Homo sapiens: one gene and its partner. The protein of the gene in region 2 binds, or shares a complex with, the protein of the main gene of each other region. Links are inferred from orthologs where the notes say so. Each region holds a gene or a part of one and is shown on either strand. Other genes may lie near its edges. The genes, in order: DLG4 and HTR2C.

Region 1 (15,306 bases), on a different chromosome or scaffold from region 2:
CCCATCCTGTGTCCCCAGAAGAGGAGATGGAGGAAGGGGAAGATGGAAAGTGGACTGGAGAATGGAAGGTCCCAGAAACCAGGCCTCCCGGGACTGGAGAGAGGAGGACGCTGTGAGCAGAGAGGAGAAAGGGAAACAGGTGGTGGGGGATGATGGAGGGGGCAGAGGGGGATAGAAAGAAGATATGGCAGAGGTGAGAACCCAAGAGGATGAGAGAGGGGAGGAGGAAAAGAGGGAAGGTGAAGATGAATAGGCAAGAGGGAACATGGGAAAGGGGAGCTGGCTGATGGAGGGAGAGGACTGATGAGGGAAAGGACTGATCAGGCCCCAGCGGCCTGGGCTGGGGATCAGGGAGAGGGAGAGGAGAATGCGTGGGAGGAAGAGAGAGACAGCATCAAGAGCCAGCCAGCCAGCCAGCCAGCAGGGAGGAAAGGCTGCAGAGGGGGAAGAGAACTCAGGAGTGGAGCAAAGCTGGGGCAGGGGACGAGGCAGCAAGGCCCCACCATGTGAAGTCTCAGGCCAGACAGATGGAAAGAGCTGGAGACTTGGGGACAGGGCGAGCCAGGCCCAGAGGCGGAGGTAGGGGGAGGAGGCGGGGAAGGGACAAGAGCAAATGAGGGCAGCAGGCGCTTGGAACAGAGCTCTGGACACAGAAAATGGAAATGGAGGTTGGGGGTGTGAAGGAATGAAGAGGTCCCAGGCGTGGGGGCCTCTTGGGGGATGCACACACCTCAACACACACGCATACAGCACACGCACAGGCACACAAACGGCGCACGCACGCACACACACACACAGCACACACACAGGCACGCATGCATGCACACACGCACAGGCACACACACAGCACACGCGCACAGGCACGCGCGCACACACACATTCTTGCTTTAGGCTTTACATCCACTCCCATTGGCCTGGCCTGTTTCTCCTCTGTGGGACCAAGGTGTTTCCAGCCCCACAAACGCCCCCTCCCCCAGACCCCAGGAGCCCAAGCCCCAAACCCCCGCCCCCAGTCCCAGCATCCCCCTCCCCACGGCTCTCTCTCACCCTACCGGCCCTTAGGGATTGCTGCAGCTCCGAGGCTCCGAGGGCCGCACTGGGGAGGGGGCCACCAGGGTCTCCTACCTTGAAGGGGGAGAGGTGGGCGTGGCCCACGACCCCGTGGCCAGCCTCGAGGTGGGACAAGTTCCTCTCCGCCACGTGCACCAGCTCGGGGGCGTTTACCTGGTTGGGGAGGTGGGCCGGGCTGTGCTCCAGAGGGGGCGTGTCTTCATCTTGGTAGCGGTATTTCTGGGGATGGGGACGGAGGTGTCACTGGGGCCAGCCCGGTGCCTCAGGCTCCAGGCTGGCCGCCCTGGCCGCCGCCTCTTCCCCCAGCCAGTGCAGTGCGGAAGGCCCTGGGGCCTGACCAGCTCCTCCCCCTCCCTCTCCTCTAGCCCATTGGCTCCCCTCTCTCCACTCTCCCAACAGCCCCCTCTCCCGCCAGGGCCTCAGCACCTCTCATCAATCCCCAGGTCCCAATCCCATCCCCCAACTCCTACTCCTCACATCCTGGGACACTGGCCTTCTGGTGGGCATAGCCCCTCTGGCATCTGTGTCTTCACCCCTTTCCCCACCACCTTCATCTTCGAGTCCCTCCAGCTTCTCAGAGCTCTAGCCCCGACACTCACATCTCCATTCTCTGCCTCCAGTCCCCAACTTCCTTGCTTCTCTCACCATCTCAGACTCACTCTTGTTCTAGCCTCCCCTCCCCTACCCCTCTGGCTGCTCCTACTCTGCATGGCATCCTCCCCGCGCCCCACCTCCATGGCCTCAGTCTCCCCATTGCAGCCTCTACCCCACAGGTGATTGGCTCTCCTTTACCTTGCACTCCTTAGGCAAGGACTGAAGTCACCCCTTCCACCAGAAGGTACTTGGTATCAGCCCCCGAGACAGGACAAGGCTAAGCCTGTCCAGTTCACTGCCCTTGCTGGTTTCCAAGCAGTCAACAGAGGGGCCCCGGGAGTCTGGCCCTACCCCTGCAACAGCCCACAGCCCAGCCAGCTAATCCGGTTATGCTATAAGGGCATGGGCTGGGGGAGGAAGGGGAAGAACAGAGACAGCAGGGCTCAGGACAGGGGCAAGAATGGGTGCCAGCCTCCCTGGTTGGGGAGGAGGGTAGCATGCTGAGCCTCAGAGTGAATTTCTGGTCTCCCTCTGCTCTTTTGGGGTGAAAGGCCCAACATGACCCCTGACTCCCTGCCCAGTTAATCAGCTGCCATCCCAAGGGCCTCCTGTGCTAGCTTAATAGGGACAACAGTAAAATGAGATTAACTGGGGGCCAGAGAAGGAGGAAAAGGGCAGATGGAGACAGCAGAAGAAGACAGCGTTTCTGCCTGGGTCCTTCCGTGTCCGCCTCTGCCCTCGCCTGCTCCTCTCCTCTGGAACGGGCCTCCACAGAGACTGACCCTCCAAGCTCCAGGTTCAGGAAGGGGAAGGTATCATACGCAGGGATCCCTCAGGAACTGAAGAAGACAGAATGCACCGCCCAGTACACATGGGTAAAAAGAGAAGGCACGGCAATCCCAGCACTTTGGGAGGCTGAGGCAGGCAGACAGCTTGAGCCCAGGAGCTGGAGTTGGAGACCAGCCTGGGCAACACAGTGAAACCCTGTCTACAAAAAATACAAAAATTAGCCAGGCATGGTGGTGCACACCTGTAGTCCCAACTGCTAAGGAGGCTGAGGTGGGAGGATTGCTTGAGCCCAAGAGGTGGAGGCTGCAGTGAGCCATGATCACGCCACCGCACTCCAGCCTGGGCAACAGAGTAAGACCCTGTCTCAAAAAGAGAGAGAGGCCAGGAGCAGTGGCTGATGCTTATAATGCCGAGGTGGGTACATCACCTGAGGTCAGAGACCAGCCTGGCCAACATGGTGAAATCCCATCTCTACTAAAAATACAAAAATTAGCTGGGCGTGGTGGCACATGGCTGTAATCCTAGCTACATGGGAGGCTGAGGCAGGAGAATTGCTTGAACCTGGGAAGCGGAGGTTGCAGTGAGCCGAGATCATGCCACTGCACTCTAGCCTGGCGACAGAGTGAGACTCCATCTCCAAAACAAAAAAGAGAGAGGGCGAGCAGAATTTCCCTCCCAAAAGTTTCTGAGAGGCTGAGAGTGCCCTAATACTTAGAGGGCAGCAGCTGCGAGATCAAATGGGAGGAAGCTTATCAAGGTCAATGGCCAATCCTTGAGTAGGATTCTGAAAATGTTAAAGATGATGAATCAAGGCTGAGAATATAACACAACTTTGGCTGTAGAGTAAGGGTACAGTAAGAGAATGGGAGAAGGGAAGTGGTCCTGTCAGCACGAAAACTCTCAAACCCAGAACACAGAGACAACTCAAATCAAGAAGCACCCTGATACATTTAAAGAGTCTTAAAGAAGGAAAACGGGCTCAGCAAGATTGAGTCTATTCTCTGGGCCACAGACTTGGAGAGAATCCTGAACTCCAGATTTCAATCCGATGGGCACAAAAAGTAGAGAAGGAAAATAGGAGAACACACAAAATAGCCCTCCTCCAAGGCTGAGCTGTCTTGAATAAAGGAGTTCTATGAACCAACAGAGACTGTTCATTCCACATCCTGAGAAGGTGGTCTTCTACCTGGGCAGTGCACAAGCTGAGGGGCAAGCCCCAGAATTGAGACCTGGGGGAAGGGGTGGAAGCCGCTCTCCGCTATCCACTCTTCCTTCACAAGGCCTCCAATTCCCTGCAAGGTAAATTAGGACCAAAGCTCCAAGTTTTGGAGTCTGGGGGAGGGTTTGAGTCCAGTGCCTCTCCATCTTCACTCCACCTCAGAGAGAAAATTCCTGAATCTGAGGAGGAAATGTCAGCGTGCACCCAAAGAAAATGGAAACATGAGGAGGGCCATTTCATCATTTATTCTAGGGAGGAAATGAAGGTAAACTTTTATCTCAGCGAGCCCCCAATACCTCTCCCTGCCCCACCCCCATGGAGGGAGGGTGGTGTCTGGCACTGAAGAAAAGGCTCCTCAGGATTGGGAGGCAACATGGAGAAAATGGGGAACAAGAAATGGGTGCCAGGGTTTCCAGAATGTGGCTGGAAGAGGTTAGGGACTAGGTTCAGTCTCTGGAAATTTTCGACGTACATGTAGGGGGGCGGGGAGAAACGTCGGGAGGGGTGGGGGTGGGGGCGGGGGAGAGTAATTCTGAAACTGCAGACTGGGGGGCTGGGGCGGTGGGGGATCAGCACCTCTCAGTCTTGGATTACAGGGCAACTAAAGCAGGACGGGAAAGGAGGACCCCCCCCATCCTTTATCCTACTGGGACTCAGGGCCCTAACCCAGACAACTCAGATGCTACTGGGACATATCTGCACCCCCAATATATTAGGGCTTAAAACAAGTAAAAGGCCTGGGGAATGGGGGACACGGACGGAGTCGCTGTTGTTCCTTCCCCTTTGGCCCCCTCCTCACCAGAGCCCCAGTTGCACAGAATGACCTGGAACTGAGGCTTGCACCCCCAAAACATAGGGGTGTGAGTCAAAGTGAATGATAAGAGGGGCGACCCACGGCGCCTGTCCACGAGAAGTTGCAACCCAGAGACCCCGCACCAAGCAGAAGGAAGAGCGACAGCGCTTGAAGCTTGCACCCTGATATTTGCGGGGGTCCGGGAAGGGGGAGCGGGCCGGAGCCCATACCGCGGCACGTACCACGCAGAGACACATGGAGGCGAATCTGTTCCGAGCCGACATGGAGAAGGGGAGGGGGACTGAGGGAAGGGGGTAGGTGGGATATCAAGGGTCCCGGGGGTTGGGGGAGGGGGAGGGGCAGAGGGGCGGGGGCTGCGGCGGCCGCGGCAACTGGAGGCTGCGGCGGGGGGGGGGGGGGGGTGACGGCGCCTGCGCAGTAAGGAAGAGCGTCACGTTGGGAGAGAGGGGTGAGGGGAGACCCTCTTAGCCACCAACTTCCCTGGTTCACGCTGTTTCTCTGTGAACTTCACTTTCCACAGTATACTTCTATTCCGACCCCTCTACAATTAAAGACAGACTTAAATTTACCAGTTTATCTCTCTAGTTCTCAGGGACCCCTTATTCCATCCCATCTAATCCCCCAACCCCAACATCGCGAGACCCCAAACCATTCCAAAACCTCACTGGACATCTCGTCACTACTGGCCTCCCAGAGTCCAGGGAAACAAACAGCACTTCTCTCACAAGAACCCCCAAGGGATCTACACTGCCTCTCCCACCAAACCCCCGCAAGATTGGTGCTGTGGATAGCATCTCCTCAGATTCCAAGGCATCTCCTACTCTAACCAGCATAGTTCTCCCCTGCAGTCCAGCCCCACCTGATAGGCAGCCCATGTTTCTTCAAGAGTTTAAGGAACCACAGAGCCTTGTTGGCCCCCCAAATTAATATATGCTAAATCATCCCTTTCTATATCACATCTATCTCCCAATCCACTAACAGGGATGTTGCAATTAGTGCAAATATTACTCTTGCTCTAATATAAACATCCAAATAACAAGTCCTCTAATTTGTTGGGGATCCCCTGTCCAAACCCCCGAATCTAATAAGATACTCATGACTTCCTAATATGCCAGTCTCCAAATCCACACCAGAACCCAATTTCAGGAAATATTTAATCTACTTTAAAGCAGACCCTCCAAATTAAATAGCAATCTCGTCAATTTTTTCCAAAACTCTTATAAAAAGAAATGTAGACGGGAAGATCGCTGGAGGCCAGGTGCCCAACACCAGCTTGGGCAACATAGTGAGATCCCATCTCTAAAAAAAAAAATTTTGGCCTGGCACGGTGGCTCACACCTGTAATCCCAGCACTTTGGGAGGCCGAGGCGGTTGGATCATGAGGTCAGGCGTTCCAGACCAGCCTGGCCAAGATGGTGAAACCCCATCTCTACTAAAACTACAAAAATTAGCCGGGCGCGGTGGCAGGCGCCTGTAATCCTAGCTACTAGGGAGGCTGAGGCAGGAGGATGGCTTGAATCTGGGCAGCAGAGATTGCAGTGAGCCGAGATCGTGCCACTGCACTCTAGCCTAGGCGACAGAGTGAGACTCGGTCTCAAAAATTAATAATTAATTAATTAAAAGTATTTTCCTTTTCCTTTTCTTTTCTTTCTTTCTTTCTTTTTTTTTTTTTTTTTTTTGAGACAGATTCTCGCTCTGTTGCTCATGCTGGAGTGCAATGGCGCGATCTCGGCTTACTGCAACATCCGGCTCCCGGGTTCGAGTGATTCTCCTACCTCAACCTCCCGGATATCTGGCATTACAGGCGCCCGCCACTACGCCCGGCTAATTTTTTTGTATTTTTAGTAGAGACGGGGTATCGCCATGTTGGCCAGGCTGGTCTCGAACTCGTGACCTCACATGATCCGCGCGCCTCGGGCTCCCAAAGTGCTGGGATTACAGGTGTGAGCCACCGCACCCGGCACCTCCTCTCCTTTTCTTTACCCCTGAGGTTCATAGATTACACCCTTTTCTGTCTGCCCAGAACATCCCCTCCACGATTCTGAATTCCAACTTTGTCGGAAGATTGCTCCCAAATATATCTTCTCCACACTCAGGCCTCAAAAAATACACACCAAAGATACGGCCGGCAATCTGCAATGACCCACAAATCGTCCAGAACACTCCCAACCGCCTCCTTCAGGTCTCTTCAGAGATTTCCATTTTCTCCCAAACAACTTAACCTGAAAGCCTCTCTTCCAAATATTCTCCCATTGAACGCCCACCCTTCCAGCTCTTAAAACCCAGTGAGGGGTCTCCTCAAATCGGCTGACTTCTATAAAATGCCCATACATGGTAGAAATGACGACTTCCCTAGAATCTCACCCAAGCGAGATTGACCCCGTTGATCGGCATCTGTTACATGCGCCCCCAAGATGACCCCCAATGTCCTAGTTTCATATCTGGTAGGAAGGCTTGGATCACCAGAGGATCCAAGGAGTCAGTGCGGAAGGGGCTGGACTCAAATTTCCTTCTAGAATAGAAAACCTGCAGGCCCTGCTTATCCACCAGTGGGCGCCATGGCCCATAAAGACCCTTCCCCATCCCCCATTTCCCTTTTCCCTCCATTTTCCGTTTCTCTGTTGCCTGGCAACGCAGCAATCAAGGACTTTGCCGTCGCCTAGCAACCGTCTCCTGGGAACACAGAGCTGAGGTAGGAGGGGTGCTCTGATGAAATCTGAACAGACCTCCATCTTAGGAAAATTGAGACGTCAGACTTCCCAACCCCCGGATTCTCCTTTCCAAAGACCCCCGCGCCCTGAAGTTACTTGGACAATAGCTCCTCAAACCCTGTCTCCTTTACGCACGGGGGGCCACGCCACGCCCATCCCAGGTCAGCCCCGCCCTCATTTCGGTCAGGTAACCCAGCCCCAAGGTTCCTCCCCTTTCCGAAGGTTGCTGCCTCCCTCGATAGAGTAAGCCAGACCCCACCCACCTGCCCGGGAGGCCACGCCTCCGTCCACTTCCCGCCCGTTCGCTCCCCCTGCCTCGCCCACACTGTCCCTCCGCCACGCCCCTGACGGCCAATGAATGAGGCCGTCGGCCACACTGCCCCGCCCCCGGCATCTCGGCTTTGCCCAATAAGGACCACCCGGAGGGTTTAACCGCTTCGCTCCTGGGGCTCTGGCAAATAGCCTCAGTCTTTCCCCCACTGTATCCCCACCCCCACTTGTTCTGCTCCGCCTTCCGCCACCCTCGCCCGGCCCTCCAGTCCGCCACGCAGCTTCAGTCGTCGCCGGTTACCATGGCAACGGCGGCAGCAGCGCGGGGAAAGGGGGAGGGACGGGGGCGGAGTGGGAGAAAGAGATGCTCAGAGACGAGAGATTCTGGCAGAGATAAAGGCACCAAGAAAGACAAAGTGATCGCTGTAGAGTGGAGTTTGCACACAACACAGGGCCTAGCACGCAGTAGGCTTTCAATAAATGTTCCTTAAATTACTGCGGCAGGAGTCTAAATATAGGCAATGAAAGATGGAAGACTCAGGCAGAGCTGGGGAGCTCAACGACCGCAAAGCCTGAGCACTCCCTACCCCATCCAGCATTTGGGGAAGCAGGAGCCATGTGCCCCCTGCAGGCTCCTCTTGGGCTACCCTCCGCTGGCTGCCCTGGATAGAGATGAACCACAACTCCCAACAGCGCCATGGGCAGCAACCCTCTAACATTGAGGGATCTGGTGCCTCGGGGCCTTATGGGAGTTGGAGTCCCCACCATACCGAGGCTGACAAGTTTTCCAGCCAAGGAATGTGGCAAGCCTGGGTCTCCACGCCTCTGTAAACCCCAAATGCATGATCTGCTCTGTAAGCCTCCTTCCTTCAGGGATGCTCAACCCTGGGCTCCATGGAAGAAGTAGGAGTCTGGAGTGGGTAATGAATAAGGCCACCCACCCACCCAGAATAGCTGCCTGCTGGCAAGCCCCTCACCCTCGCTCCCATTTGTGTGTTCACGTGTTGGAAGCAGAGCCCACACATTCCAGCGGGCTTTCTATTTACACCTGGAATGCAGGGGACCACAGCCATGGAGCCTAAGGCCAAGTGACAGGCCTAAGGGCAGGAGACAGCGGGAGCAGAGGAAACCAGGCCAGAGAAACTGAGGCATAAAAATCCACCGAAACTACAGGGGATGTGGGGAAGAGGCAGCCTGGGAGAAAGCCCGAAACCCACAGAATGAAGGACAAGAAAGTCGCCCTGGTGGAGAGAGGGTGGGGGCTCCAGATCTAAAGGTCCTCAGCCCCCAATCTCTTCCAACCATCCTCACACGTGCACAATGCATGTGTACACACATGTGTGAGTTTGTGGCAGGGAACATGTGTGTCCTCAGCTCCCTCCCATGAAAAGCTGCAGTTCCCACTAAATATAACCCCCTCCCCAGCCTGTGACTCACCCGGACCCCGCCTCCCCCGGCCCCCACTTCCTGTCCCACCCCCCAGCCCCCAGCTGCCTGCCACCCGCCCAAGCCTCCCTCCACACACCAGGCATCCAGCTCTCCAGTCCCAGAGTCTCCAAGGAGAGCCTAGGTATCTGCATCCCACCAGGAGCTCGCCTGTGCTCCATCCGAGATCTCCTGCCTTTGCCAGGCTCCAACCAGAGGGACACTCTTGCACAGATCCCCATCGCTGCCAGCCCTGCCCTCCTCCTACACCTTTTCACCCCAGTAACCTCAGTAACTTCGGTCATAAGCCCTCAGGGACCCTTAAATCCAGGTGTCCTCCCCCACCTTGATCCCAAGCGTCAGGGGTATCTGGAACAGTCCCCACATCTGCTCTTCTCCCTCTCTCTTGATCAGGGCTAGATACAGTGTGGGAGGAGATGGGGATATTGGGCACCTGCCTTTGGGCCACCCCCAAATTGTGCACCACCCACCCGGTCCCCCTCCTCAAATCCCCTCTCTCCCTAAGCCTCTCATCCTCCTCCTCAGGGGCTGGCAAGCTCGGCTGCTGCAATCTTCTGCCTCCTATGGGAGTACCCCCAAATCCTTGCCTCACCTGGTCCATTCCCTCAGGTGATCCCATGCCAGGGCCCCAGCCCTCTGACAACTTCCAACTACCTCCATTCTATATGACTGAACCCTAAATTAACAGTTCCCTCAAATTGAGAGAGCATCCCTAAATGCAGCCACCACGAGATGCTTGTTCTAGAGTCTGAAGGCCCACCCCTTCCCTGCCAGCTGACACCCCCAGATCAGTCAGGCACTCACAACCAATAACCTTTACCCCATGCCAGGAGCCCCCCAAAACTGGACAAGGCCCTTGGAAGCCAGCTTTTCCCTGGGGAGGAAAGAGGAACCCCCCAACATAGCCCACCTTCCCACATACACCAGCAGGACTCCCTTATGAGCCAGGCTTCTCCTTAAATAAGTCTCCCTCAAACAGCGCTGATGAACCCCCAAACCCGCCAGGCCCCCCGAACCATGGAATATCCTAAATTTTCCATATCCCTACAGGTACAAAGGGATCACTCCAGGGGGCACCTGTGGCCAAATCCTGCATTTTCTCAGATGTGAACCCCAAAACTAAATTAAGACCCCCAAATACATCTTACTTCTGATGCTGCCACTCCAGGGGCGCCAGTCCCAGATAAGGCCTACTAACCCCTCCCCACAAACTCATACCCTCCCCCCAGTTTATAGCCCCCCCATCATGCTTACCTTGGTTGTCACTATACAGAGACAGTCCATGTTGGGGGGCCTGGCCGCGGCGGCGGGTAAGGGGCTCTGACTTCATCGGAGTTTCGTTCCTCCCCTCCGTGGGTTCTCACCCCTCCCCCCTCCGCACCCCACTTTTGCAGGGGGGGCCAGGATGGGGGGAGGGGTGAGAGGGGAAGGAGGGGGTTGGAGAAGGGAAGGGGAGGGGAGCGTGGGAGGGAGGGGAAGGGGGCCCTAAAAGGGGCTCCCCAGTGGAGGGGAGGGGGCTTGGGGAGCACACCCCGATTCTCAGGAGGGGCGGGGGCACCGGGGGCTGGCAGCCCCGGAGTTCGGGGGCTGGGGCATGAGCTGGGGTGGGGGAGGGGAACTGGATTTCGGGGAGCCCCGGGGTAGGGGGGGGTCTTGCCAAACGGCCAGGGGCTAGGGGCCGTGGCGGGGGAGTGGGGTGGGGGGGTTGGAAACGGCAGCGGCCGAGGGAGCCGTGGAGCCGAAGAGGGAAGGGGAGAGAGGAGGAGAGAGGAAGCAGGGGGAGGGAGGGAGGGAGCTAGGAGCCAGAATGGGGGGGGTGCCTTGGCAGAGTTAACTCCTTCTGTGCTGGCAGGAACCCGGATAATGGGAAAGGAGATAGAAGCAGAAGCACAGAGGCCCCTGAGGCAAACATGGAGACCTGGCCAGCCACCAGCGATGACAGCAAAGACGATGAGGCTGGATTTCATTTCTTAGAGAAGGAAGCATCTATAGTTGGGCTGGGAGCACCCACGGTTATTTGAATACGGGAGGGAGGCCTCTCGGCAGGCGGTAGGGGGTCGGGTGTGAGGGAGGAGCTGAAGGAGGCAATCCCTGGGGGCCTAGTTCTCCCTCAGGTTTCTCAGGGGGAAACCTAAAAAGTTAAGCCCTAGACTCTTTAGTGCCTGAAACTGGGGCAGCCAAAGAAAACGAGGAAGAAAGGGAGAGTGGGTACAGGACCACAGAGAGTGCATTCTCGGTGCCCCAAGTCCCTGGGCCACTGACTCAGGCTTTTGTCAGCAGGGCCCCCAAGATTCCAGGTAATATTAGTGATATTTGGCTCACCCCTCCAGCCCTGCCTGCCCCTCAGGAAGTTAGGCGCTCGCCCCCACCTCCTTACCTGACTCTCTGAGAGGGAAGCCTCATAATAGTCCAGGATGTCTGTCACAGGAACAGAACTGAGTTACCTCCCCACCCCAGGCCTCTCCAGGCACATCACCCCTGTCATCACCGCTGCTGGCTGGCTGGCAAGGGAGGAGCCCTTTCAGCCAAGGCTGGTCCACACTCATGGAGGACACCATAGGCAGGACCCTGCATGGTGCTCCAGCTTGGACCAAATGATCTCTGGGCTCCCAAACAGCCCCCGAAGTTCAGTAATGGCCCTTGGAGGCCCAGGTCCCTCAGAAAACGGGCTACTCACCCAGCAAGGCCTGGAAGAGGTCGCTATGCAGCACTGTGAGGAGTGGGGGTGCCCACCGCAGCAGTGGGGGTGCCAGGAGCCAGAGGGCTGACCTGGGAGCTAGTGAGATGCAAGGAGAATTGGGACAGGGAAGATGCCAACACAGGAAGATGAACACACTGTCACTTCATCTCCCCAGACTGTGCCCTTCACCCCAGCCCCTACGGAAAGATTTGGGGAGAAGGATCTCCGAGCCCCAGCCCCCCACTTCGCTCCCAGACCTCCCCTCCACAAGGAGCCCTGTTTTTCACCTCTTGGTCTCTGGGACATCTCTCTCTTCTCTCACTTTAATCTCCCTAATCCTCCAGGATTGGAGTTGAGCTGCTTCTCCCCACTAAATTCCAGCTGTGAGTAAAGTAGGCCGTCTCTGAGCCGACCAGCTGTCCCATTCCCCCAGGTCCCAAGGCACCAGCACCGCCACCATCTTGCTCCACACACCCTGGCCCCCTCTTCCCATAGGCAGGCAGAACCTAGCCACGCTCTCCTGAGAAGCCAGCAAAGAGGGCCTCCTCACAGAGGGCTCCAGCAGCTCAAAAAGAAGCTGAGCCCAGCTCTCTCTCCTCCTGGGCCTCCTCTCACCCCAATGAGAATTGCAGAAAAAGGGGTAGAAATTGTTTGGGACTTCCTGCCCTAGGGCTAGAGAAGTTGGGGTTTTACGGGTAAGAGGCAGGAGAATTCCTGCAGTTCCTCTCAGGCCCGGGAGGAATCCATCTGCCTGGGCACATGGTCTCTGGAAGGAACAGAGGGCAAAGACAGAAGGGAATGTTCAGGAAGGTCTCAGAGGCTTTACTAAGGGAGGGGCAGTGAATCTGGGGGGGTCTTCCTACTGTGAAACTGTAGCTGTTCCAAGAGTTAGTGAATGGCCTACATCTCAGAAGAATACACTTAGGGTACTCACACCCTAGCTTGGGTGCCCCCCACCACTGTACCCTCCCTTTTGTGTTGGCCGAGATAGATTTCATCAGGAACCCTAGAGTCTGTCTTTCCATGTCTCTGCCTCTGCCATCTACCTTACACTTCTCTTTCCCTACTTTTCCCTTCTAACCCCACCGGAGAAGCCCTCCCTTCAGTCCACCTCCATCCCTCTGGCTGCAGTGACTTAAGCCCCTTCCTCTTCTGTCCCATCCTATCCCATCACCCCGTCGGAGGACTAGACTCTAGGTCGGACGGGCGGGATTAAGGAGTTTGGGGGAGACGAGGGACGCTTGGAGATCCCTCTAAGTCAGCGGAACGCAGGGCCGGGCTCCAGGGAACTACAGCTCCCAGCATGCCCCGGGGCCCGCAACCGTCCGCCGCCCGGTGCACTGTGGACGATGAGTCAGGGTTAGGGGCGCCAGGACGTGGGCGTGCAGGACGCCAGAGCTGGGTCAGAGCTCGAGCCAGCGGCGCCCGGAGAGATTCGGAGATGCAGGCGGCTCGGATGGCCGCGAGCTTGGGGCGGCAGCTGCTGAGGCTCGGGGGCGGAAGGTCTGTGTGTGACAAGAGGGACGGTGGGCAGCGGCCCTGGGCACCGGGCCGGCACTGAACCCCCACTCCCCACAGCTCGCGGCTCACGGCGCTCCTGGGGCAGCCCCGGCCCGGCCCTGCCCGGCGGCCCTATGCCGGGGGTGCCGCTCAGGTAAGTCACCGCAGCCTTGGCAAGGGGGTGTGGGAGCGGCGGTCCGCTTCGGCGCCCGCCATCGGCAGGGATCTCCCTCTTGGTGCCAGGTACCTGCCTACTGCTCAGTCGCCGAAAGTAGGGGAAAGGGCAAGCCAGGGTGCCCTAGGGCGAAACTAGGGGAAAGGTCACCGCTTCGCGCCGCCTCCCCGCGCGGCTCTCGCCTGTTCTCCCCTTGACACAGCGGAAGTCCCTTCCCTGAACTTGCTAACCGTCTCTTTTCCCAGCTGGCTCTGGACAAGTCAGATTCCCACCCCTCTGACGCTCTGACCAGGAAAAAACCGGCCAAGGCGGTAGGTAGCCCCGAGGCCAGGTGGACCTTAGCCAGACCCAACCAGAGCCCTGAAATTTGCCTCTCTCTGCCCAGGAATCTAAGTCCTTTGCTGTGGGAATGTTCAAAGGCCAGCTCACCACAGATCAGGTGTTCCCATACCCGTCCGGTAAGGGAAGGGATAATCAGAGCTGGGTGGGGCCAGGGTGGTTTCCCCTGCCAGCCTGGCCTGACCAGCCTGTCCCCCACCCTCTGCAGTGCTCAACGAAGAGCAGACACAGTTTCTTAAAGAGCTGGTGGAGCCTGTGTCCCGTTTCTTCGAGGTAAGGAATGACTCGGGGCTTGGTCCCTGGTGAGGTGTTTGGAGATGTTAAGCTCAAAAGGAGCCTGGATGTGGGATCCTGTGCCTTCCCCAGGAAGTGAACGATCCCGCCAAGAATGACGCTCTGGAGATGGTGGAGGAGACCACTTGGCAGGGCCTCAAGGAGCTGGGGGCCTTTGGTCTGCAAGTGCCCAGTGAGCTGGGTGGTGTGGGCCTTTGCAACACCCAGGTGAGGGCGCCCTATCGCCACATCCCAGTATGCCATACCCCAGCTTGGCAGACTCAGCTCTTTTGCCATAGACCTAGAGACTAGGGCTAAGGTCTCTTCTAAGCACCTGCCCTGGGTGCCTGTGGGATGGATGTTAACTGTCCAAACATAACACAATTTACATGCAGTCCCCTAGGCCTGAGCCATGGGCCTCACCCTGGTTCCCAAGTCCTTACAAATCTCTAAGTTGGGGATTGCCTAACAATAGACTGACTAGTAGCAAGTCACCCTCCTACCTAGACCTAAGACAGACCAGCATTCTCTGCTGTGCCCTTTGCACACCCCACTTCTTTTCTACACACTGGGGATGGCCCAGGTCAGGCACTGCCCTAGGTCAGGAACTGCCCTAGGTCAGGAACTGCCCTGTTGCCCACACTCTCCTGTTAAGGTCAGGTCCCCCTGCAGCCAGTGACAACCCCAGATTCCTGCTTCCCCTCCAGTACGCCCGTTTGGTGGAGATCGTGGGCATGCATGACCTTGGCGTGGGCATTACCCTGGGGGCCCATCAGAGCATCGGTTTCAAAGGCATCCTGCTCTTTGGCACAAAGGCCCAGAAAGAAAAATACCTCCCCAAGCTGGCATCTGGTGAGGCAACCCTAGGAGAGCCAGGGATTGGGGGGCACACTGGGCTTGGCACAGATTAGGCCAGTTGGCACTTAGATTATCAGATGGCTGAGCATTTCAGTTGGGGGAAGGTTTTGGGGAGGCATCACAGTGTGCTGGTTGGGACATGCAAAAGAACTGGATACTCCCAGGTGTTAAGGGGGAACTGCCTGCTGGAGGGATGGGGAAGTGGGCCGAGGGGACTTTGAAGCTCATCAGAACTTGGGGTAAAGTAGCTCTCTCCCCAACAGGGGAGACTGTGGCCGCTTTCTGTCTAACCGAGCCCTCAAGCGGGTCAGATGCAGCCTCCATCCGAACCTCTGCTGTGCCCAGCCCCTGTGGAAAATACTATACCCTCAATGGAAGCAAGCTTTGGATCAGGCAACCTGCCTCCCATTTCTCCCCTTCTCCTCCGCCCAATTCCAGGCCCCACTGCTCCCCGTCCTCCACGCCCTGAATATCCCATTCTTCCACAGTAATGGGGGCCTAGCAGACATCTTCACGGTCTTTGCCAAGACACCAGTTACAGATCCAGCCACAGGAGCCGTGAAGGAG
Region 2 (14,550 bases):
GCAGGAAAATTTGACACAGACAGTTACCCAGTGAGAGGTGGGTAATAATCCTCCAAACTAAAGAATCTGCCCTTGCTAACTTAAATAATACTTTGGAGAGCAAGTCATTGTATCAATGAATAGTCATTTGGGCGCATAATTCTACCATACAAGTTCTTTTCCATTTACATAGTGATTTTAAAAATAGATATAGAGGTATGATGAAATGACTAAATAAATAAATCTATTGAGAAACCAGCTCATTTCTGCTTTTTCAAAATGAAGTTTCAAAAAATATTTGTTGGAGAGACACCAGATCTTCCTTGTTTTACTTCCTTCAAGAATGAAGTAATCAACTTCTTTCTGAATCTATTTTAGACTAACATTACATTTAAAACTAAAAGATACAGGCCTATTAGACCTCTGGGAGTCATTGACCAACCAAAAATGCTAGAACAATCTACCCACAAGCCACAAAGCATTAAATTAACTGTTTAATTAAGATAAAAAAAACTAATAGATTCATGACGTGATCACTCAGAGCAATTCATTAATACTAATGTCTGATTTCCTTTAACAGTATAAAAAGGAAGGAAATAAAGCTCTTATTTACAAGTTTATTTGCTGCAAAGGCATTTAGGAATTGCTATTTTAAAAAGAAAACTTGCGCTTCTTTCTGAGCCATCAACCCATACCGCAAAATGGGTGCAGAACTCAGTTTGCTAATAAAAAGAGAATTCTATAGCCATGCATGTGGTCAATGAAATGGTCTCTCTCTCATATATGTATATATAATGGTGTATTTCACTGTGAAATGGAAAATAAAACAGTGTGGTAGGGCTAAGCTTTAGCTAAACTAATTTAAGAAGATTTATAATATTTTTATTGCCCTAAAATATGTTCAGAGAAATTACCTGAAATCATTTCAGGGGAAACTGTTATTCTGTTAGATGCCTTGAATTCTTGAATATTATTGTGCAGATGTGCTAAAAATTCTATTTTAGCTCTTCCTTCATCTTCTTTCACCTTTACTTTAACCATTGGAATACAATACAATCAATCAAGATATGTTAACTGATTACCTACTATGGGCAAGGCACTTATCATATATGTGGGCTAGTCAACAAAAGCTTCCTGCAAGAGGTGGGGCTTGAAACGGACCTTGAAGATCAGACAGAATATAGATACATTTGGGAGAGAAAGCTACATACCACAGTACTGGACTTCTCCAATCTTTCTAGCAATAAATTCTTTTTTAATCACGGATCAGGTTTTTTGTCAATTTAAAATGGAAGTAAGAAATGGAAGTAATTGGTTTGGTTTTTGAATTTTTAAAAACCTACTTTTAAAAAGACTTTAATCATATTTAGAATTTTTCCAAGTATGGTCTTTCTACCCTGAAATAACTTTAGTCTAAGTATTGTACTCAGATATGGTTTTTCTACCTGGGCTCAGATCAGTAAACTAAAAAACTGGCAGTTACTTTTTATAGCACCTATTTTCCAAGTCATAGCTATCAAATTACTTTTCCTGACTCTAGTATGAAAAGGAAATACATGGCAAATGGGATCAGACAAGACTTGAAACCTTCCTGATATATGATAAATAATTTTTAACACAAACTCAAGATTTTATTGTCTTCATAATAAAACAAAAGATGACACTTAGAAATGGATCACTTGGACCTTTCTCTTCTTATCTCTTCCCAGTTCAAAATGCTTGCATCTTTTAATGGCAGCATTCTCTTAGATTTGCAGTTGGGATCAGTGCACTCAAGCCTTAGCACAATATTCTTTGTAGTTTTAGCTTTTTTCCGAAAAATTGGCTTAGTCTGCCCACCATATTCACTGCGCTGCCTGTCATAATGCTGCTTTCCCTGGGCATACAGAGAATCTTTGCCCTTCTTGTACTGTGTCGTTTTGTGGGGTTGGTGCTAGCCACACTTCTTTAAGTCTTGTGAGTTTTAGGAACATTCACCATGTTTTCGGGAGCACTATCGGTACGGAAAGAGATAAACGATTTTTACTGATCCTTCTGTCAGTCGGTCTTAGACCTTCAGAGCTTCTATTTTACTGCTTGAATTTCAAGTAGGCAATATTATATAAATGACAAATATGAATGGCCTTTGTTGTGGTGTTACATGTAGTAGAAACCTGTGGGTCCAACTCACAGTAGTAACATCTGCCTGTCCAGTCATCTCTACATACAATAGCATTATTTCCCTGACTTCATTTCTGTCTTTGTATTATCTCTGTAACTCCCCTGAGCTTCACTCAGCTTCTTGTCCCTCAGTCTCTCAGCATTAACAGTACATTCTCATTTGCTCTACTTCTTTATTGGTAGGTGAATCTCTAGATGAAATGTTGCATGTCTGTCTCATTGCCTTGCCAAGCAGCATATCGAGGATTAATGGACATTGTCCATTAATATCCTCACATTTACATGCAAATTTGTTCTGTTAAAAGACTAGTTGTTACAGTATGAAAGAAAAATTAGCCAATTTCTAAACAGAGGCAATAGTTTGTTGTTTAACACCACGGCCTCTGGAATAAAACTGCCTGGTTTCAAGCTTGGTTTTGTTCATTCAGTTTGAACAGATTAACCTCTTTGTATGCCTCAGTTTCCCTAACTGCAAACTGGATAATAGTAGTACCTTCTCATGGGGTAGTCATCAGGCTTGTATGGTTATATACCTGTAAACCTCTTAGAACTGTGTAGTGCATGGTAAATGTCAATAAATAGTGGCCACTGTTACCATCTTTTATACCTCTCCTCTTAAGAATAATTACTTGCTAATTTGGGCAAGTCTTACTACTTTGATTACAGGAAGCTATAATTGAAGAGTATTCAGTGAGTCTTGATTACTGAGATAAAATGGGAGATACGTAAGTTTAAAATACACTTGCAAAAGATTTGAACACTGACATTTATTCGTAAGCGTTTACTGATTAGTTTAAAGAAGACATCATGTTTTATGAAAAAGTAAAGGAAATCCTAGCCAATTCATTCATTGCTATCCTTGTCTAGATATTAGTTGACATTATCTTTGGTTTCAGTGGTGTTCAGTTTTCACTTTTTATTTTTACATTGAGCTCAACCCCACACCTTGCCATTAACGCTAATTCAACTCTGAATTTAAATACCCATATATGGTGGCTGTTGCACTGGACAATGCAGTTCTAAAGGCTTTCTAATAGCTTTCAATAAATTTATGCATAGTTCTTAATAGGTAATAATAACAGTATGTTACCCAAAGGTGTACTTGTATTTAAAGGAGACAGTGACTAAGATGAAAGAGGGAAATTCCTGAATGTAGAATTTCAAGTTATATGGAAAACCATGAAGGCTACTAATTTAGGGACCAGAAGGCCTTTCGAGTGCTTCTCAAATTAGACCATGTAAGTGGTCATCTATGCATAAGGTTAACCATAATTAAGAAGAATGACTGTTTCAAATGCCAGCTATATGTACAATGCTATAATACGCAACTATTTTAGGAAACTGCAGATGACACTGTCTTAGCCACAGCTGAGAAGAGGAATGAATAGCGAGGTTGAAGTAGAGATGCCAGGTAGGAGACAAAAACAGAATTAAAATTCCATCTTGTGTATATCTTATTTGAAATCCTGATTTCACTATGTCGTTTGTGCATTAAAATGTCAGAAGTGATTAGCAAAGAGTTGTTGCAGGTGAGCATTAGTATTAAATCTGCTAATGACTTGCCAAATGATGATGCAGCTTAACCACTTGGTTGTTTTCAATGTTGTTTGTCTAGAATGGAGATGACTAGACTGTCTTGCAGCAATGTTCTCAGTATATGAAAAAGCCTTCTTAAAATGTCTTGAAGAATGGCAGTGTTGGAGAGATCCATAACTTGAGCACACATTAGACTGGAGATTGATGATTTCTTTTTGAGGTTCAACAGTACAATATGTAGATGAAATGACATAGGTAGCCTAGAATGCTAACAAATAAATAATAAATGTTGCTTAGTGCAATAATTTAAAATTTTCAAAGTGCTTAATACCCATCTGTTTCACAACAATCAGGTGGGGTTATATATGATACTGACATAAAATATCACAATAATATATTATTAACTTCAATTTATGATGAAGTTTTCCTAGTTTGCTCATGGCTACCAGGCAGCTAGAGGAACATAATTTAGCAGTTCTTCCACTAGACAATACTAAGCTGTATCAGATGCTTTACTAAAATAATCTCAGTACACGTACATCATCCTTTTGTGAGGTATTCCATTGCTATGAAAGTGAGGTGGTAAGATGCTCCTTAATAATACTGGACAAATAGTCTGGAGCTTCAGGAGCCATTAAAACCTGGGAATTAATTTATCTTTCAGCAGGCTCAGCAAACTGCAACCTCCTTCAATCTCAGGCCTTGAACAATTTAATAAGAATAGCTGAGGATATTTAATGTTGGTTACTATAATCTCTCCCCCAAATTTTGTTTTAATTTTTGTGTTTCCCTTAGCTGGAGAGGGATGACGTTTCCTTGAAGGAAATACATGGAACAGTAAAATTATTGAGGCTTGACTCAATTATAATGTTGGATGAATCTATTAGAATGTTAGGCTTTTTAGATTTTACTTTTATTGCTCTTCCCAAGTAGACTTGGAAGCACAAATAAATATTTCTTATTCTCTTGCCTTAAATTAACTTTTGAGAATACCTTGAAAAATTGAGGGGAAAAATCTAATGGCACCGATAAAATGGAGGATAATAATATCTCCGTCATTCATAGACTTGCTATGAAGACTATATGAAATAATATATATTTTATGTATATATATGTAATAGTCCTGGATCCACGTCTGGCATCCAGGAGGTTCCCAGAAATATCAGTTCTCACCTCTTTTCTGATGAATTCATACTGCACAAAAGCCTGTTACATTATCTGAAAAAGTCATCACTGTCATCCATGACACCTCTAGATGGAGATAAACCCCTCAAGAAAGCATAGAAAGGGTTAATAACCCTCTCTAGATAATGCAGATAGAAAAACACCGTCATTTTTGCTAAAGCACCCCAAATCCTACCTTGACATTGCAATCAACAAGCCTTATCCACCTTCCGAATTTCAGGACTTGCGTTGGGCTTGTTGCTGTAGATGATAGACGCTATTAGGAAAGAAATCATGTTGATGAAACAAATATTTTCTTCCCTCCCCAGGAGGATCAGGAGAATTTATTTAAGGAATGAAAAATATAATTAAATATTCTATAACCTACCTCCCCAAAATATGGACAAAATTATTTATTTCCCCCCACCTGTGGGGTGGAATGGGGGGGCATTGTAGATGATTCCCAAACAGCCAGGTGCTAAGGAGATTATACTCTTCAGAACAGACAATATTCAGTATGATTTCAGTACTGCAAAAGAGATGCAATGATCACGGTAGATATCATTTTCTGTGGGGCATGTCAGTTGGCCTTTGTCATTGTCTCTACACATATGTAGCCAACTACACAGTAACACCTTGTTTCTATTGCACTCATATTTTGATTGTCAGAATGGCTGATATGTACGTAAACTTCTTCATGAAAAATTTAAACTCTGGAGCCCAGATATCTTTTTTCATTACCGTGTATGTGAGGTCGCAATTGTCTGCAAACTGGGGAGCTCAGAGGTTACTCAGTGCGCCGCATTTCCTCACCCCCCGCCCCCCAAATCATCTTAGCTCAACCATATATGAGCGTCCCTCGGTTAGCCTGCCTAAAAGGTATGAGGTAAGGGGCATATGCACTTAGTGGCTCAGCAATCAGAGGCTTCCTTGGATGGGACTTATACTGGTAATATTAATGAAGAAGCTGCGCGGTACTGGCAGTGATTCCAGACCAAATCTTTTAACTGCCGAATGTCACTCGCTGAATTATGAGTTGGGGAGCTCTGTTGCTTAAAATACAGGGTTCTCAAACACAATGCAAGTGTTTGTCACCTCAAGTCGCATACTACCCAACAGGAAGCAAAAGGCAAAGGGCATGGCGCAGAAAAGAAACAGACACACAGACACGTTTTGCAATGACGAACTTTATGTGACATCAGGAACGGCAACCTGTTCTCATGTTTAGCAATTCCGAGGAACGCTGTAAAGACTGCTTGTCAGGTAAAACTGAGTACAGGAATAAGAGGCAGCGCTGGAGACTTTTTCGCAATCCTTTTCAAAATATAGAACAGTAACCAAATGACTTAGATAAGCTAATTAATTATTTAAAAAAAGGTTCACTGGATGCCTTTATCCTCTCCTCTTAAGCTTACGTGATCACCAGCAGCGCTGTTCAAATTCAGCTAACAGCTGTTAGACCAAACACAGATCCGCAGTGTGTTATCTCCCCAGAGTTACGGATGTTCGCTGAGACCCGCCAGAAAAATTAGGGTCGCTTTTCAATGAGAACATAATAAAGGATCCTTGGTTCCCCCTCTGCACACACTGTCCCAAACCTTGCGCCCCCTCCCACTTGCCTGCTGTCGGATTTCTTAAAATTGTAGTCGGTCCTGCAACTCAGTTGCATCTTCCGCAGCCCGACCCTCTACTCAGCGACATTGCGTTCAGTTTCCCTCCTTTCTCTCCTCCCACTCCTCACTTCTTGAGACCCCACCCCCGCCTTCCGTTTCTGTCTCGGCTTCCCCCGCGCCAGGTTCTCTAGACCCCCGCCTCCGCCCAGCGTCTTCATCTCGAGCCCCCGCTCCCAATCCCCTTAGAGACTTCTATGCTCCTTCCGTGGAACCTAAGCTCCTCTCTTCTTCCAGAGACTCAGTCTCCTCGCGATTTGCGCGTTCAGAGTCCCTCCCCCCAACCTCCGCTAGGGCCAGTGCGGTCCTGCAGGCTGCAGCCATCCGGGACCTGTCCCCGCTCCCCACCCCATCCCCCGCCTAAATCGTTGGGGTCTCGGCTAGCAATGCCGCCCGGGGCTCCAACTTACCACTAGCGTCCGGGAGGAAGACCAGGCAGCGGTCGCCGCGGCGGCAGCTAGACGAGAAACGGACTCGGCTGCAATCGCCCAGCGGAGCCCGCGGCAGTCGGTGCGCTGAGCTGCGCTGCGCTGCGCGCCGCAACCTCGCGCCTCGGCGGAGGGAGAGGAATGGAGGGAGCTCGGCGCGATAGGAAGCGCCGGCGAGTCGACCTCCTTTGGGTGACCGTGCGCCCCCCGGCTAGGTTTGGCTCTTTTCGCTCCGCTATCTTACTCTAGCTTAGTAACTGACCACCTCCAGCATCTCTGCACTAATCGCGTCTTCTTTCTTCTTCGTTGGCCCCTAACTAACTACACTACTCTAAACGGACGAAGGCCATCACACGAGCGCCACGACGATCGCGACGACTCCGACGACAACGATGTACAGACAGAAGAAGAGTTCATATGCAATCGGCAGGTAAGGGGCAAGGCAGGCCAATGGAGCAGCCAAGGCTAGCAATCTAGCCGCTCCAAAGGCAGTATCGGGAAGATCGGTGCATCTGAGGAAGGAAGCGTCCTCGGCAAGCACCAGAGCGCCTACCTCGCGCGGGTGAATCTGCACCACGCTCTTGGGCCAAAAGCGGGATGAGGGGAGGAGCCAAGAGCAGCCAATCAGCACTCAGCATTACGTGGCCCCCGGGCCTGTTTGGACCGGTCTCTTAGTGCATCTGGAGCCTGCTGGCAGGGGGCGCGAGACCCCATGGTGGAGATGGGGGTGGGGGTGATGATTAATCTGATTCACAAGGCCTAGAGAGTAGGGGGAACCAGGATCAGCCATGGCACCGGATAGAGAGAGAGGGAAGGCTTTCTCAAGAATGTACCCTCAAAGATTCATAGCATACCCCTCCCCAAACACACACACACACACACACACACACCCCTGTACATTTCATTTCAACAAACAGCATTCTCAAGTCTTGCAAATTTCATCAAGCTTTGAAACTCCCTTCAAGGGTCTCTGTTCCGACTCTTGCCCATTCCTCCAACAGTAGCAACTGAGGCACTCACAGGGTCAAACATTTGGTGAGTGCGCAAAGGCCACAATCCTGTTATAAGGCCCACTTCCCCATCCTTGTCTCCCCATCCTTTCCCTAACCCCAAAGGAGAAAGAAAAGCTCTTGGCCTTCGAGCCCCGGGAAGGCACAGTTTAGTTCCTTTCTTGACCCCACAGGCCTCATTAGAAAGACACCTTGAGGGCAGCTCTTACGGGTTTCCAAGGGGGTGAACATATCTCTCTGGCACAGGGCCTTGGGCCCACAGCCAGTCGGTTGCCCAGTCGTTGTGGGGGAGGGAGGGGTGCTGTCAATGCAAGGTCAAGGCAGCAAGAGGTGAACCACAAAGGCTCTCTTTTGGCAACTGCTGGGATGCCGAGCTGCAACCGGTCAGGCAGAGCTCTAACCGGTCAGGCAGAGCTCTTTTTCACAGGCTCCCAGGCGCAACCGGGCAGGTGCCTGCGGTGTCCTGGCGGCAGCGCAGAGAAGGGTGAACGGGGCCCCCTTGGCTCAGAGGCACCAAAACCAAGCTGAGTAATGGAGATGATCCCACGGAGAATGGGGACAGAAGCAGATCTCTCCTAAGAGGGAACGAAGGGGCGAGCGGGGGTGGTGGTCTCGGGTCGCGGCCGAGGTTTCTCGGCCCTGTACCGAGGACCGGGGTGGGAAAAGTGGAGATTGGCTCCCCGCCTGTCGGAGGTAGCTGGACCGAAGCAAAAGATCGAGCCTCCGGTTTGGCTACTTAGGACCGGACGGCAGCGCAGCGAGTGTATAGAAGAGGCTACAGAGAGGCCGTACAGAGAGAGGCTTGGAGGACCTAACCCGGCAGAACGCAAAAGGGGTGGGAGCTGCCGGCTATTCTGAAGGCCGAAGTTTGCCTCAGTAGCCCCAAAAGTTAGAGATGGAGAAGGAAGTGGAAGCAATGATAAGGGTCAGGCCCCTTCCTTATTCTGGATGCCCTAGGAACAGTCATTTCTCTCTGTGCCTCTGTTTCCATATTTGTGAAAGGAGCTGTCCAGTCTATTCCAAAAGGGGCATTTTGGGAATCCTCTGATTCCCTCCATCGCCACTGAATTCAGGCTTTGAAATTTAATTTGGCAGTGAACATACTGTCGGCACCCAAGTTCTGTTTCGAAAAGCAAAAACCCATCGCAGTTTTCTTGAAGCATCTGTTGAATGCTGCTGTATGATGCCGCACAGGTGGCTGCGACAGCGCTGCCAAGTCCACCGACTGCACAACGCTCGCATCTTTAGAAATGCTTTGGTAGCGAACAGTAATTTATAAATATGGAAGAGAAAACGTATGTCTTCTCTTTAAATAATTAAGCACTCATCTTTAAAAACTCCCCAAGTGTCCCCTTACTCTATGAATGTGGAATGCTTAGTCTTGCCTTTTCTGGCGGGACTCGTATTTATTTTGTCAGAGGCTGAGACATTTATATTACTTCAAAAAATGTAAATATAAATCCCTGTGATATTTTTGCTAAGCCAAAATGGATCTGCCGAGCAGCGAGTGGAAGTTAGCATCCGCCAAAACCTGTTCTCGCTCCCCGGCTCCCGGGGGAACCGGCTTGGAGAAATTGACCATGATAATAGCAATTATGAGGATGAGGATGATGGTAATAATAGTTTTTATTATTATATATTTCGCTCTAAAGGCTGTTCTCTCCTTCTCCTTGTGAAAGGCAAAAGTGCCGAGAGCGACCAGGGGTGAAACCCACGTGGTCGTTGGGAAGGTTCCCGCAGCAGCAGAGAGAAAGTTTGCTAGCCACGCGGCTTGCTGAAGCACGTCTGGGCTTCGGAGGTCGGGTAGAAACAAGCAGGCACGTTAGCCTTTGAGCGGCGCTCGCCGAGCGGCCCAGAGCCTGTAAGACTGAGCCGGAGCGGTCCGCGGCGAGGCTCGGGGTACCGGGTTCCGCCGGGACCGAAGGCTCTGCTTTCTTGGCATTTGCGGCGCGTACTGCCTCTTCAGGTTCTCTAGGCTGCGGCTCGGCAGAGCGCTGCAAGGTCCGACGGACTTTGGAGATTTTGGCAACACCAGACCAGAGAATTTAGTGTAAGGAGAAATTTAGGGCGCACTTTAGGACTGGGGAAGCAAACTCAAAACAAGCACATGCTGGCGCTTTCTGTCGCTCTGTCATTGCCAGAGAGGTTTTCTGGAACCCCTGCCTAACGAGGCCTGGGGAGTCAGCCCAGGGTTTTCACTGCTTTCCTTTCCGTTCCTCAGGTGTATGGAAATTGTCCCTGGAAAGAGGAGTTATTTACAGTGAATTCCTCAGGTTTGATTAAAATCCCCAGTGCCCCCCGGAACACGGTTTCCAAATATTTCCCGGTTTCTAAGGCTGTGGACTTGTTTTTACAACTTTCGAACCGGGGCGATTTCCTCCTACTACAAATACATATGTTTCCAAAACTACTGATTTAGAAATTCGGGAAAGAATTAAAGAAGATTGTTACTACGTAGGAAAAAGTTCCTCATCATTTGAAACTTTGGGAACTTTTTAAAAAAATAAACTGACTAGAAAGTTTACTTCTCTACTCATTATTATTTCCCCCTCTTGACCAGAGAGCCCTATTTTAACACACCTAAAGGATGACAGACAGGTTTAAAAAATGAGTGACAGGATTCTAGCAAAATTCTCGAAGGCAGGTATTTTCACAGATCAAAAGAAGCTACACAAGAATTCTACCGGGAGTTTTTTTTTTTTTCTTATTTACCACCGGACATAAATGCAAGGAATTTTGATAATACTTCTACCCATATTTTTTCAGTTTTAAAGCAAATTATCATAGCCAGATATGTTTTTGGTAGTAATACAATTGTATCAAATTATATTTTCAGCATTCGCTATTACTACTTAATCGTAAAAACCCAGCATCAGATCCATAATGTCCATCGTTGAGGCATGCCACACCTAGAAATAAACTTTTATGACATCGAACACAATTGACTTTTCCCTTACTGTGCCTCAAACATGGTCATAGACTTAGAAAAAAATCTTAGACATAGATAGCTTATTATACACAGTCTTTTTAAAGTTGGTAGGATTATTTTTAATAAAAAAATAACGCAGTAGAACTCTGTGTGCTGTGTAGGAAGGCAGGGGGCAGTCTCTGATCGTGTCAGTCTCTGTAAGTGAAACTTCTGTTTGGAAAGATCTTCTGTTTTAGAGAAAAACAACAATCAACACTGGTTCTCTGACGCTCTCATTGAAGAGAAGAGAAAAATACTGGAAGCCTTTTGGGAGGGGGAGTTGGAAGTTCCCATTGAAGGGAAGAGAAAAAGACTGGAAGCCTTTTGGGAGGGGGAGTTGGAAGTTCCCATCACATATTTCTGCCACGTCTAAGGAAAAAAAAAGGTATATCACAATTAAAAATCTGTGCTTATTTCTTTTATGCAAAAAACCGTATTTAATTAATTTTATCTAACATCCTTCTAGTAATACAATATGTATTTTGTGTAGTTTCCAGTAACCAAGTATATGTTTGAAAAAATAGCAACATGCATGCAAGTTTGAATAGGGATTGGGAATGGAATCTTGTAGCCTCAAAAAGGAGAAAGAGCTAGGAGCTACTTTGACATCAGTTCTGTAGGGAAATATGTGTTGTCTTGGAGCGCATTCGTGTTATGACGAATGCATTTTGTATTATAGGCATGCATTTCACTCTTCCAGTTTAGGATAACAAAGATGGCAATTAGGACCTTTTATTTAAATTAAACTGAGATTGAAAGTCCAGGACTACAGTGATTTCTTGTTCATTCTTAGCTCAAGACTACTGGTCGCTGAAGCCCAGTAGTCTTGCTACCCATATATCTTACTCTGACTCTTTCAGACCATTATGATTTCTACTTCCCATTTCTGTAATAATTAGAGCTATAACCATGCAACCAAACATTTCCTTGTTTCGGAGTTATGTCTAAAGTAAAGTAATGGGCTTGGTTTCTCTGGTCTGTAAATCAATATCATTACATTATTTCAAATGAGTCGCAACATCACTCATTGCTACCGAATCCCTTCTTTTCTTTTTGTAAGAACTATTCCCTCAACCAAATTATAAGGATCTCAGGAGGAAGCATTTAACCATAAGCTTCTCTTCTCCTTTTTTCCACAACTATCCTAATACTTCGCACAAAGAATATAAGCAACAATGATAACTACCATTGTTGTTATGCAAGAGGTTAAGATGAATGGTCAAGAAGGGCTGGACTTCTAAAACTCGAATTTTTCAATGACCTGAATACAAATGTAAAAGATGTTTTACCAAATTGGCCCTTCATGCAAAAAGATCATGACAGTTTGAACCGACCAAGATGAAACTTAATAGTAATAAATAGTAATAAATGTGAGATGCTCAATTTGAGTATCAAACTTCTCTGCACAAATTTAGGTCACCGAAGCTGGGAACATTTGGTGAAAAAATACTTATTGATTTTAGTTGACATCAAGATCAACAAGCCTTCAGTGTGATCTGGTTGCTGGGAAACATAATTTTATATTGAGCTTTTGCAACTTTCATAAAAAGAGTCAAAATGCAGTTGGGCTATATACGGTATTTTCAGGCACATACTTTAAGAATGAAGATTGGAATTCATTTATCAGAATGATGGGAATTCATTCACAAGAATGTTCAGATCAGTAGAGTGCTGGAATCATGTTAGATGGGTTTGTATCATCTGGAAGACATGACTCTTGGGTTACATGCTAGCTGACTTCAAATATTCAAGGGATTTTCTTAAGGAAAGTGGATTTAATTTATTTCCCAAGTTTGTTATTCATGTCTTATTTGTATCTGTTACCTCAGTGTCTTGCACAATGTCTGACACAAACTAAGCATTCAATAAATATTTGTGAACTGAATGAAACTATAAACATTAAACTCTGAAGAGAATAAAACTGAATTTAATGAATCCACAGTTTCTGGCTCTAGAGGAGGATTTTATAGCATTCAGAACTATCCAAAGATGGCATAAGTTGTTTCAGGAGGTAGTTAGTTCTCCACTCTTGAGATGTTCAATGCTACAGAGGTTAATCTCTTGGTGGGGATGTTACAAAGGAGAACTATGTGTGAGGAAAGAGAAGAACACGTGGCTAATGAATGACATTTAAAGCTCTTTCCAATCCAAAATCTTGCACAATGAATAAATGCTATCTTAATCTAATTTTATGACATAAATAGATATTGAACTTTCTTAAAAACAGAGACAAAAAAAGTTATGTACTGCAGACTGGCCATATAGATTCAGCTTTGTCATAAGAAAGAAGCAGCCTCCTACCAAGTCACAAGACACTTTTGTTGAGCCTGTTGCACTTGATAGCTACTGACTTCGGTGGAAAATAATCTCTGGGAAGCTTATTATCATGTTAGTATACTATCACTCTTTACAAGTCTAGAATGCTACAGATGGTCCCCGACTTACGAAGATTAGACTTACAGTTTTCTGACATTAAGATGATGCGAAAGTGATACGTATTCAGTATGCTTCTTAACAATTTTCCTTTTTCCTCACCAACAAATTTGAAGGCCAAGTCTCTACACATTTCAAAGGCTGAAACAACAAAAGTTCATTTAAGATGATGTTTTAAAAACAAGTGATAGCAAATTCCCTGTCATCAAAAACTAAAGAAAAATAATATGGTAAATAAACATTTTCTTACCATATATACACATTTTATTTATAGACAAGTATAGAAATCTTTCATTTTCTCCAAGTGGAGCTTAATTTGAAGCAAAAGCCAATATAGTAATGACTAGATGCCTATTGTCATCTAATGGCAGCCCTGCAGTAGAAGTACCTGAGTAAAAGTTTATTTTCTGGCCTTTTGATTTTTGAATCAAAATTATTTTTACTGTTTATGCATCTTCTAGTCATTAGTAGGAAAATGATAGTAAACTTTTAATAGGTGATCTTGTAAGGGAGAGTAATGAATTCTTACTTGGTGATAGAGCAAAGCTGTGGGGCAAGATTTGCCAGAGAACACAACTTTGTTGGTCTTCCAATTTGACCAGCATTCTTCATCTACCAAGATAAGATTCAAAAATAAGCCTTTATCCTTTAGAGTGTCATACTCAATAATCAAGAAAAGCACTGATAAATCAGGGACTAGATAGTTTAGTCTATCATTGTTAATTTTGTCTATGCATTTTTTATTTCATTATGACCTCAAAAAAACCTTATTGTCAATATAACTTGGCTGAACTTCCAAAGATACAAGGACAGAGGTGAAAAAATGTAGAGAAGTACCTCTCATATTCTTTCAAGCCAAGCCACACAGTGGGAGCAGTATTACTATCGTCTGGTTTGATTACAAAGTATAATGGTTGAGTTATATCAGTAGTCCTGATATTTTGAGAGTTTTTAATTTTTTTAAAGTCTGTGATATCAAGTAATGTGGTATTCAGAACATTACAGTAAAACATACATCTAAAAATGGTTTGCCTTTCAAAGACTAGACATTTCAGTGACGCTATGATTCGTCAAAATATTTCTTAACATCTCTTTTGAAATTGCCTTCAGAATATGCCACATTGTTTTCAATTTTTGGCAAAAGTCTATGTCATTGAGAATTGTGTCTGGTGATTAACATTTTATGATCCGAATATTTTGTT

The links.
Region 1: the proteins of HTR2C (region 2) and DLG4 are in contact, whole or in part, in an NMR structure (PDB 2MHO), measured with the Rattus norvegicus proteins. The link is inferred for Homo sapiens from one-to-one orthologs. Residues at the interface, in NP_036897.2 of Rattus norvegicus: Val452, Val453, Ser454, Glu455, Arg456, Ile457, Ser459, Val460; in NP_062567.1 of Rattus norvegicus: Gly74, Leu75, Phe77, Ser78, Ile79, Ala80, Asn85, Pro86, His87, Ile88, Thr97, Lys98, His130, Val134, Leu137, Lys138.

Annotation. Positions count from the first base shown.
Region 1 is NC_000017.11:7,206,950-7,222,255, forward strand, and holds the start of DLG4 (disks large homolog 4), read right to left. Parts: upstream 10,679-15,306; 5' UTR 10,225-10,678; coding exon of another isoform or gene 10,199-10,224; coding exon 10,169-10,198; intron 1,291-10,168; coding exon 1,225-1,290; intron 323-1,224; exon of another isoform or gene 6-322; coding exon of another isoform or gene 1-5. Other genes in the region: ACADVL (very long-chain specific acyl-CoA dehydrogenase, mitochondrial), read left to right, coding at 10,197-10,224, 10,767-10,869, 13,173-13,248, 13,515-13,580, 13,655-13,727, 13,817-13,881, 13,975-14,109, 14,589-14,733 and 2 more. UniProt on the Homo sapiens protein: Postsynaptic scaffolding protein that plays a critical role in synaptogenesis and synaptic plasticity by providing a platform for the postsynaptic clustering of crucial synaptic proteins.
Region 2 is NC_000023.11:114,577,029-114,591,578, reverse strand, and holds the start of HTR2C (5-hydroxytryptamine receptor 2C isoform a precursor), read right to left. Parts: upstream 7,494-14,550; 5' UTR 6,920-7,493; intron 1,990-6,919; exon of another isoform or gene 1,594-1,989; intron 1-1,593. UniProt on the Homo sapiens protein: G-protein coupled receptor for 5-hydroxytryptamine (serotonin).